2 linked regions of the Homo sapiens genome follow. The protein of the gene in region 1 interacts with the protein of each later gene in a biochemical or structural test. Each region holds a gene or a part of one and is shown on either strand. Other genes may lie near its edges.

Region 1 (4,108 bases):
GTGCTTGGGCATTGACCAGCCAAAGCTCACATTTAGAAAGCCCTCAGTGCTTCTGTGGTTTCACCTGGGCATCGACGACATTAGGGAAGCCTTTGTGACCACAAGGGCAGGGCTTGTGCCCTGAGTGGCGAGGTGGTGACCTGAGGCCAGTGTGATGTGGTTGGATCTCAGCGTGTACTGAATGCCAGTCTGGCCGGCACACTCGAACGCTAAGAGAATGGTCCAATTTGATGATCTTATTTCTATTTCGATCAGGTTTTGACTTTTTGTAGATGAAAACTACCAGGGAAAAGGGGAAGCAGGTACCCAATAAAGTTTAGAAAGATCCAGTCTGTGAAACCCTTAGAGATGGGCTGAAAGTTAAGTCCACCAACCCTTGGGCTTAATCAGGACGGAAGAGGAGGGGGTGTGGGGGGCAGAGCGTAAAACAAGCCCCAGCCCTACTCCCGGCCCCCCAGCCCAGTCTTCCCAATCCCAGAGGCCCCGGCGGCCTGTGCTCCTCACCACCCTGGTCAGGGGAATAGAAGGAAATGCAATTTCCGCCTGTCTGCCCGACTTCCAAAAACTGCCTCCTCCTGCCCAGGCCTCTCCCACCACCACCTTCCCTCCAAAGATAACCGTGTCCATGCCATCCGTGGCATCATCTCGAGTTTTCATTTTTGGATGAAGTGACATTTAGCTTTAACAAGACATTTCCAAAGCGCCTAGTCTCCTCCAAAATGCTAACTTTAAAAGTTGGGCATTGTAGGCGAAAAATCCCAAAAAAAAAAAAAGACAAAAAAAAAAGGCTGGCGAGAGAAAGACATTTGGCTATGCATAAATGTGCACTTCCCCCATGCCCCCGTTCTTAAACTCTTAAGATGCCTTTGAGTTGCTTTTCATGAATCCTTTTAGTTTACCCGATAATGTTAAGAAAGCATTAGTCTACGTTACTGTAATTTCTGTAGTGTTTACGCTTTAATTTCTACCACAAAATATGCTATATGCTATGTATCAAGCTTTCTGTAATCAGAAAGAAAAGGTGCCTTATATCCCAATGTCACGGCTACATCCCTATGGAAATTAATCAGAAGCACAGTGTGTACGGAAGCATTGGGACTTCTGCTGGTGAAACAAGAGACCATTCAGCAAGACACATTGAAGTGGCACGGAGCTGCTTTTGTTTTATAATTCTTTTTTCCCCCCTTTTCCTTCTTCTTTTTTATTATTTTATTATTTTTTTTGTACTTTGCTTTAAACGGAAAGCACTTAAATAGATGACTATGTGTAAAAGCTCTGTGCAATTGAAATCATTTTTCTTCATTTTAAAAAAATAACGTATTGCACACCAAATGAACTCAAAGTAAGCTTTAGACCAGGACGATTCAGGTTATGAATGAGTTTGTTCACTGTAGTTCCGTTTGTTCATGAACCGAAGGGAAAACAGGCCTCCCCGACTCCCTCCAGTCTCCCAGCCTGCCTCTTGGTGACCACTGTGCTGGGCGTGCAGGGCCCGCGGGCTCTGGCCGGAGCCGCTGGCCTGACGAGGCAGGATAGGGAGTATCCGTGATTCAGAAGCTGAGACCCTTCCCCAGTGTCTGAGGCCACAGCCATCCCTTCCAGCACTTAATCTTGTCTTGTTGAAATGGACTGACTGCTACTGACCTGCCGGCGTGCGTGAGGGTGATTATAAAAGGATGTTTCCTTGAGAAAAAAAAAATTATTTCTATCCTCTTCTATTTATTATTAGGTTAATCATTTAAGTACTTATCAGGAGTGTATTGTTATTTTGTGTTTTGTTGTCATAAATGCTTTTTGCTGTCACTCTAGTGGTTACTATCCTCTGCCTTCCTCTCCTCCCCTACTCCCCCAGAGAACCAAGGCGTCTGGGGGATTGACTGGGGGGCAGAGGGGGTTTCCCCAGCAAAATCAAACACCTGTCTCCAGAGTAGCCACTCAAAAACTGGTGGTCTCTATGTGTCTAACTTTTTAAATGAGAGTGTTTATGAACAAAAAAATTTACCAACGTGTGAGGGAGTTGCTGAGTTGAAGAATGCTCGCTTGAGGAGCTTCAGAGGAATCTTAGCAAAGCCAAGTTCAGTTCCCCAAAGCCTCCTAGAGCCTCTGGTAAGACTTCTGGGTTCATGAAGTTTCGGCGAGCCGTGGTCAGAGAGGGCGCGGTGGCCTGGCCAAGACTTTACCTCCAAGCGAGAGAGTGATTTCTTGCAAGGCCCGCATGGGTTGATACGTTTTGGTTGGTTTTTTGTTGTTGTTTTTCTTGCGTACAAAGTTGGTCAAAACCATCTTTCAAAGCAACAGTGTTTTGTAGTACCAGGCTGTGGCTTGAGGGCTCACCTAGGAGATCATAGGCAGAGGGCCCCTTTCCCCTATAGGTGGTTCAACGTGGAGGAAGGTTGGGTGTGGAGATTGCTTGCTGTGGCCCCAAGCTCAGCCAGCAGGACACCCAGTTGTTGCCAATCAGGTGTGAAGGTGAGGCGCCCTGCCTTGATCCCATGGGCCCAGCAGAAGGAAACTTACCCCAGGCCAAGGCAAGGGCCCTGCTCACCCCAAGGTAGGCTGGGAAGAGCATCTCTTTCCATATCATCACCTCCCCTTCTCCAAGATTGCCGGGGGCCCTGATTTTGTTCTCTCTTTGAAAGAAACCCTCCACCGAAACAATGGTCCCCATCTCCCCAGAAGCCTTTTTTTTTTTCATTTTTCTCTAATTAGTCTATGCATTTCTCTCTCTCAAACCATCTTCTGCCTCTTCCCTTGAGAAAACGGGCATCTCACGTACCCCCATCTGAGACCTCTTGGAAAAAAAAAATCCCGTGTATTCTGGAGATGTGAGAATTCACCCAAAATTCTTAAAACATTGGAGAATAGCTTGTTATAAAATAAAAGTGGGGGTAAAAAGAAGGTGGTTTTCCCCACATCCCTTTGCATTGAATAAGAGACCTAGTTCTTTGCGTTTGTGCAATAACTCTTTGCTGCTTGCCTTGAGAGCGGGTAGCACCACGCTCCTGTCCAGACTACTAACAGCACAAGACGCACTCACAGGGTGGCGGAATCTTCCGGAAAACTCTCTATAAGCTCAGCTCCCCCCACCCCACCCCCACTCTAGCGTTTTGTCACGTCTTACATTTTAGCAGTATTTTATATTTTCTGTAACGCACCAAGTCTTAGATCTTTCTAGAGCTTGTTTGTTCATCCTCACAATCACAGATTTTTTTCTCCAATCCTCACAGAGACCCAATTGACCAAAAAAGAAAAAAGGAAAAAAAAAAAGTCGTCTTTTTTTTTTTTTTTTGTACAAATCGCTTTGAGATGCCTCTGGTGTGTTGCTGTGTGACATCTCTCTGGTAACATTTTATTTCTTGCTATTTGTTTTTCTACATTAAGAGTCAAAGTTGACCTGGCTGGCGTGGGGGTGGGGGAGGCACCCGTCGGCCCCTTGGTGTTGTCCCTCTGTCTTTGGTTAGCCATACGATGTTTGTTCTCAGCACTGTACAACGGTCCCTATATAATACGGAGAAGCAATATCACTGTATGAGACTCACACCATGTATTATTATTCACTAGCACCCTAGGTGTGATAATTGAAGTAAATATCTTTTATACAAACACAAGAATGTGTGGGTTGTTTTTATTTAAAGTGCTCTGGCCTGAGGACGAGCAGCAAACACTGTCATTCGAGGTCCAAAGGGCACCTCAAGAATCGCCGTTCCCGAGGTCGTCCCCTTTGCACCTGTCCGCAGGTCCTCGGGCGTGTGGCTTCCGGGCACACAGAAAACCGTGTGGTTCTAGGATACATGGGGATCTCGGGCACTGCTCTGTCAATCTGCATCTGGTTCACAGGAAGGGCTTCGCCAGGGCCTGCGTTCCTACTTGCTGTTGTCACCAGCACTGTTTGCCTACCCTTGAACCAAGCCCTTACCCTCCCTGGCGTCCGCTTCCTTTTCTGTAAAATGGAGACACCATCTCCTGTCATATAGGCTTGCTGTGGGGAACCAGGAATGGTGGCCAGTGCTGGTGCGGCACTGGGCTGGTGGTGGCAGCCCCAATCGATGGCACTTGGGCGACCAGGACTACGGCCAGTCTCCTCTGCCGTGTGGCCTGCAGCTGGTCA
Region 2 (3,500 bases), on another chromosome or scaffold:
ATAAAAACTCTTAAAAAACTGGGTATAGAAGAACATATCTCAACATAATAAAAGCCATATACTACAGACCCATGGTCAGTATACAGAATGGGGAAAAACTGATTTCCTTTAAGAGCTTGAACACACCAAGAATGCCCACTTTCACCACTGTTATTCAATATAGTACTGGAAGTCCTAGCAAGAGCAAGCAAAGAAGTGAAATTCTTCTTGTTTGTAGACGATATGATCTTTTTTTTTTTTTTTTTTTTTGAGACGGAGTTTTGCTCTTGTTGCCCAGGCTGGAGTGCAATGGTGTGATCTTGGCTCACCACAACCTCCACCGCCCAGGTTCAAGCAATTCTCCCTCCTCAGCCTCCCAAGTAGCTGGGATTACAGGCATGCGCCATCATGCCTGGCTAATTTTTTTTGTACTTTTAGTAGAGACGAGGTTTCTCCATGTTGGTCAGGTGATCCGCCCACCTCGGCCTCCTAAAGTGCTGGTATTACAGGCATGAGCCACCACACCTGGTGACAATATGATCTTATATTTGGGAAAACCTAAAGACTCCACCAAAAAACGACTAGAACTGATAATTCACAAAAGTTGCAGGATACAAAAATCAACATACAAAAATCAGTAGCCCTGCTATATGCCCACAGTGAACAATCTGAAAAAGAAATCAAGAAAGTAATCCCATTCACAACAGCTACAAATAAAATTAAATATCTAGGAATTAACCAAATTAAGTGAAAGATCTCTAAAATAAAAACTACTGAACGGGTATGGTGGCTCACGCCTGTAATCCCCGCATTTTGGGAGGCCAAGGCAGGCGGATCACGAGGTCAGGAGTTCAAGACTAGTCTGGCCAACATAGTGAAACCCCGTCTCTACTAAAAATACAAAAAATTAGCCAGCTGTGGTGGTATGCGCCTGTAATCCCAGGTACTCAGGAAGCTGAGGCAGGAGAATGGCGCAAACCCGGGAGGCACAGGTTGCAGTGAGCTGAGATTGCACCATTGAACTCCAGCCCAGGCAACAGTGCGAGACTCCATCTCAAAAAAAAAAAAAAAAAAAAAAAACAACTATCATTGGTGAAAGAAATTGAAGACAACACACCAAAAAAATGGAAAGATAATTCATATTCATGGATTGGAAGAATCAATATTGTTAAAATGTCCATACAACCTAAAGCAATCTATAGATTCAATGTAATCTCTATCAATATACCAATGACATTCGTCATGGAAATAGGAAAAACAATCCTAAAATTTGTGTAGAACCACAAAGACCCAGAATAGCCAAAGCTATCCTAAGAAAAAAGAACAAAAGGGAGGAATCACATTACCCGACTTCATACAACAAAGCTATAATAACCAAAACAGCATGATATTGGCATAAAAACAGACACACAGACCAATGGAACAGAATAGAGAACCCAGAAAAAAATCCATACATCTACAGCAAACTCATTTTCAACAATGGTGCCAATAACATACAATGAGGAAAAGACAGTTTCTTCAATAAATGGTGCTGTGCCTTAAGCAGAGGTTAGGTTTGCTGTACAGACTTAAGTTGATGCCTTCTGCATTGACAGTCTCTAGAGATTTAGTCTTTCTAGTCTTTCTTCTCTTCCTGGTGCAGAGAGGGAGACACCCTGTCAAAGAGATACTCCTTTACAAACGTACACTTCCCTTAAAAAAGGGCAACTTTTCAGAACTACTCCTGTATCTGCAGTTTCTCAGGATAACCAGCTCACAACAATCAACATGCCAAAAAGGCATATTTTTGAAACCACCTTTGCAAAAATTACAACAGTGAGTAAAACGTGATATAGCTGACTCCATCTTTGCTTTTTTTTTGAGACACAGTTTTTGCTCTTGTTGCCCAGGCTGGAGTGCAAAGGTGCAATCTCAGCTTACTGCAACCTCCACCTCCTGGGTTCAAGCAATTCTCCTGCCTCAGCCTGCAGAGTAGCTGGAATTACAGGCATGCACCACCACGCCCGGATAATTTTGTATTTTTAGTAGAGACAGGGTTTCCCCATGTTGGTCAGGCTGGTCTCAAACTCCCAACCTCAGGTGATCCGCCTGCCTCCGCCTCCCAAAGTGCTGGGATTACAGACATGAGCCACTGCGCCTGGCCCTATCTTTGCTTTTAATCTCACAAGCTCTTTGCTCATTCCTGAGTGTTGGCAATGCTAACTATGGGAGAAATTCAGTTTAAAGTTTAGCTTTAAAACAAAGATGATTAACAGTCCTTTCCCAAAATTAACCCACTCCTTGCTCAGAGACTAAAAGCATCTTTGTAAAATTACACGAGGTTAGAATTATTGTTTAGGAGTTATGTAGCCAAAAGTAACAAGAATTTTGCAACCTCCACAATTGCTCCTATAGATAACATCACTATTGTAAAACGTAAAACTGGTGGTTGGGGTATCTTTCAGACCTTGCATTTTGATGGACCAACTGGTGCCACTTGGACCAGGAGCCCATATGAAGAAACTGACTCAACTGGTTCTGTGACCACTACTTAGGAACTGAGTCAGGGCAAGAAGACAGTTTCAACTCTCTACAATTTTATCCAAGACCCAACCAATCAGCATTCCCCATTCCTTAGCCCACTGCCTACCAAACTATCCTTGAAAAACCCTAGCCCCCGAATTCTCAGGGAGGCAGATTTGAGAATTATCTACTGTCTTCCTCACTTGGTTGGCCCTGTGACAATTAAACTCTTTCTTTGTTGCAAACAAAATAAATAAGTGGTGCTGGGAAAATTGGATATCCATATGCAGAAGAATGAAACTAGACCCATATCTCTCATCATATACAAAAATCAAATCAAAATGGATTAAAGACTTAAGTTGAAGACTTCAAACTATGAAACTACTAAAAGAAAACAGTGGAAAACCTCTCCAGAACATTGGACTGGGTAGAGTTCTAGAGTAATACCCCACAAGCACAGGCAACCAATGCAAAAATGGACAAATGGGATCACATCAAGTTAAGATGCTTCTGCAGAGCAAAGGAAACAACACAGTGAAGAGAAAACCCACAGAATGAGAGAAAATATTTGCAAACTATCCATCTGATAAGAGATTAATATCCAGAATATATAAGAAGCTCAAACAACTCTATATGAAAAAAATCTAATAATCCAATTTAAAAATGGGCGAAAGATCTGAGTAGGTATTTCTCAAAAGAAGACATACAAATGGCAGACAGCATAAGAAAAGGTGCCAACATCACTGAGCATCAGAAAAATGCAAATGAAAACTACAATGAGGGCCGGGCCCGTTGGCTCATGTCTGTAATCCCAGCACTTTGGGAGGCTGAGGCAGGCGGATCACGTGGTCAGGAGTTCGAGACCAGCCTGGCCAACAAGGTGAAACCACGTCTCTACTAAAAATACAAAAATTAGCCGGGTGTGGTGATGCAGTGTGCACCTGTAATCCCAGCTACTCAGGAGGCTGAGGCAGGAGAATTGCTTGAACCCAGGAGGCGGAGGTTGCAGTAAACCGAGA

Evidence for each region. Proteins that work in one complex are often made in the same cells at the same time.
Region 2: the proteins of CUX1 (region 1) and CDK7 form a complex in vitro, tested with the Homo sapiens proteins (one study listed by BioGRID).

What each region holds. Positions count from the first base shown.
Region 1 is NC_000007.14:102,254,626-102,258,733, forward strand, and holds the end of CUX1 (Homeobox protein cut-like 1), read left to right. Parts: 3' UTR 1-3,608; downstream 3,609-4,108. UniProt on the Homo sapiens protein: May be involved in intra-Golgi retrograde transport.
Region 2 is NC_000005.10:69,241,386-69,244,885, reverse strand, and holds part of CDK7 (cyclin-dependent kinase 7), read right to left. Parts: intron 1-3,500. UniProt on the Homo sapiens protein: Serine/threonine kinase involved in cell cycle control and in RNA polymerase II-mediated RNA transcription. Cyclin-dependent kinases (CDKs) are activated by the binding to a cyclin and mediate the progression through the cell cycle.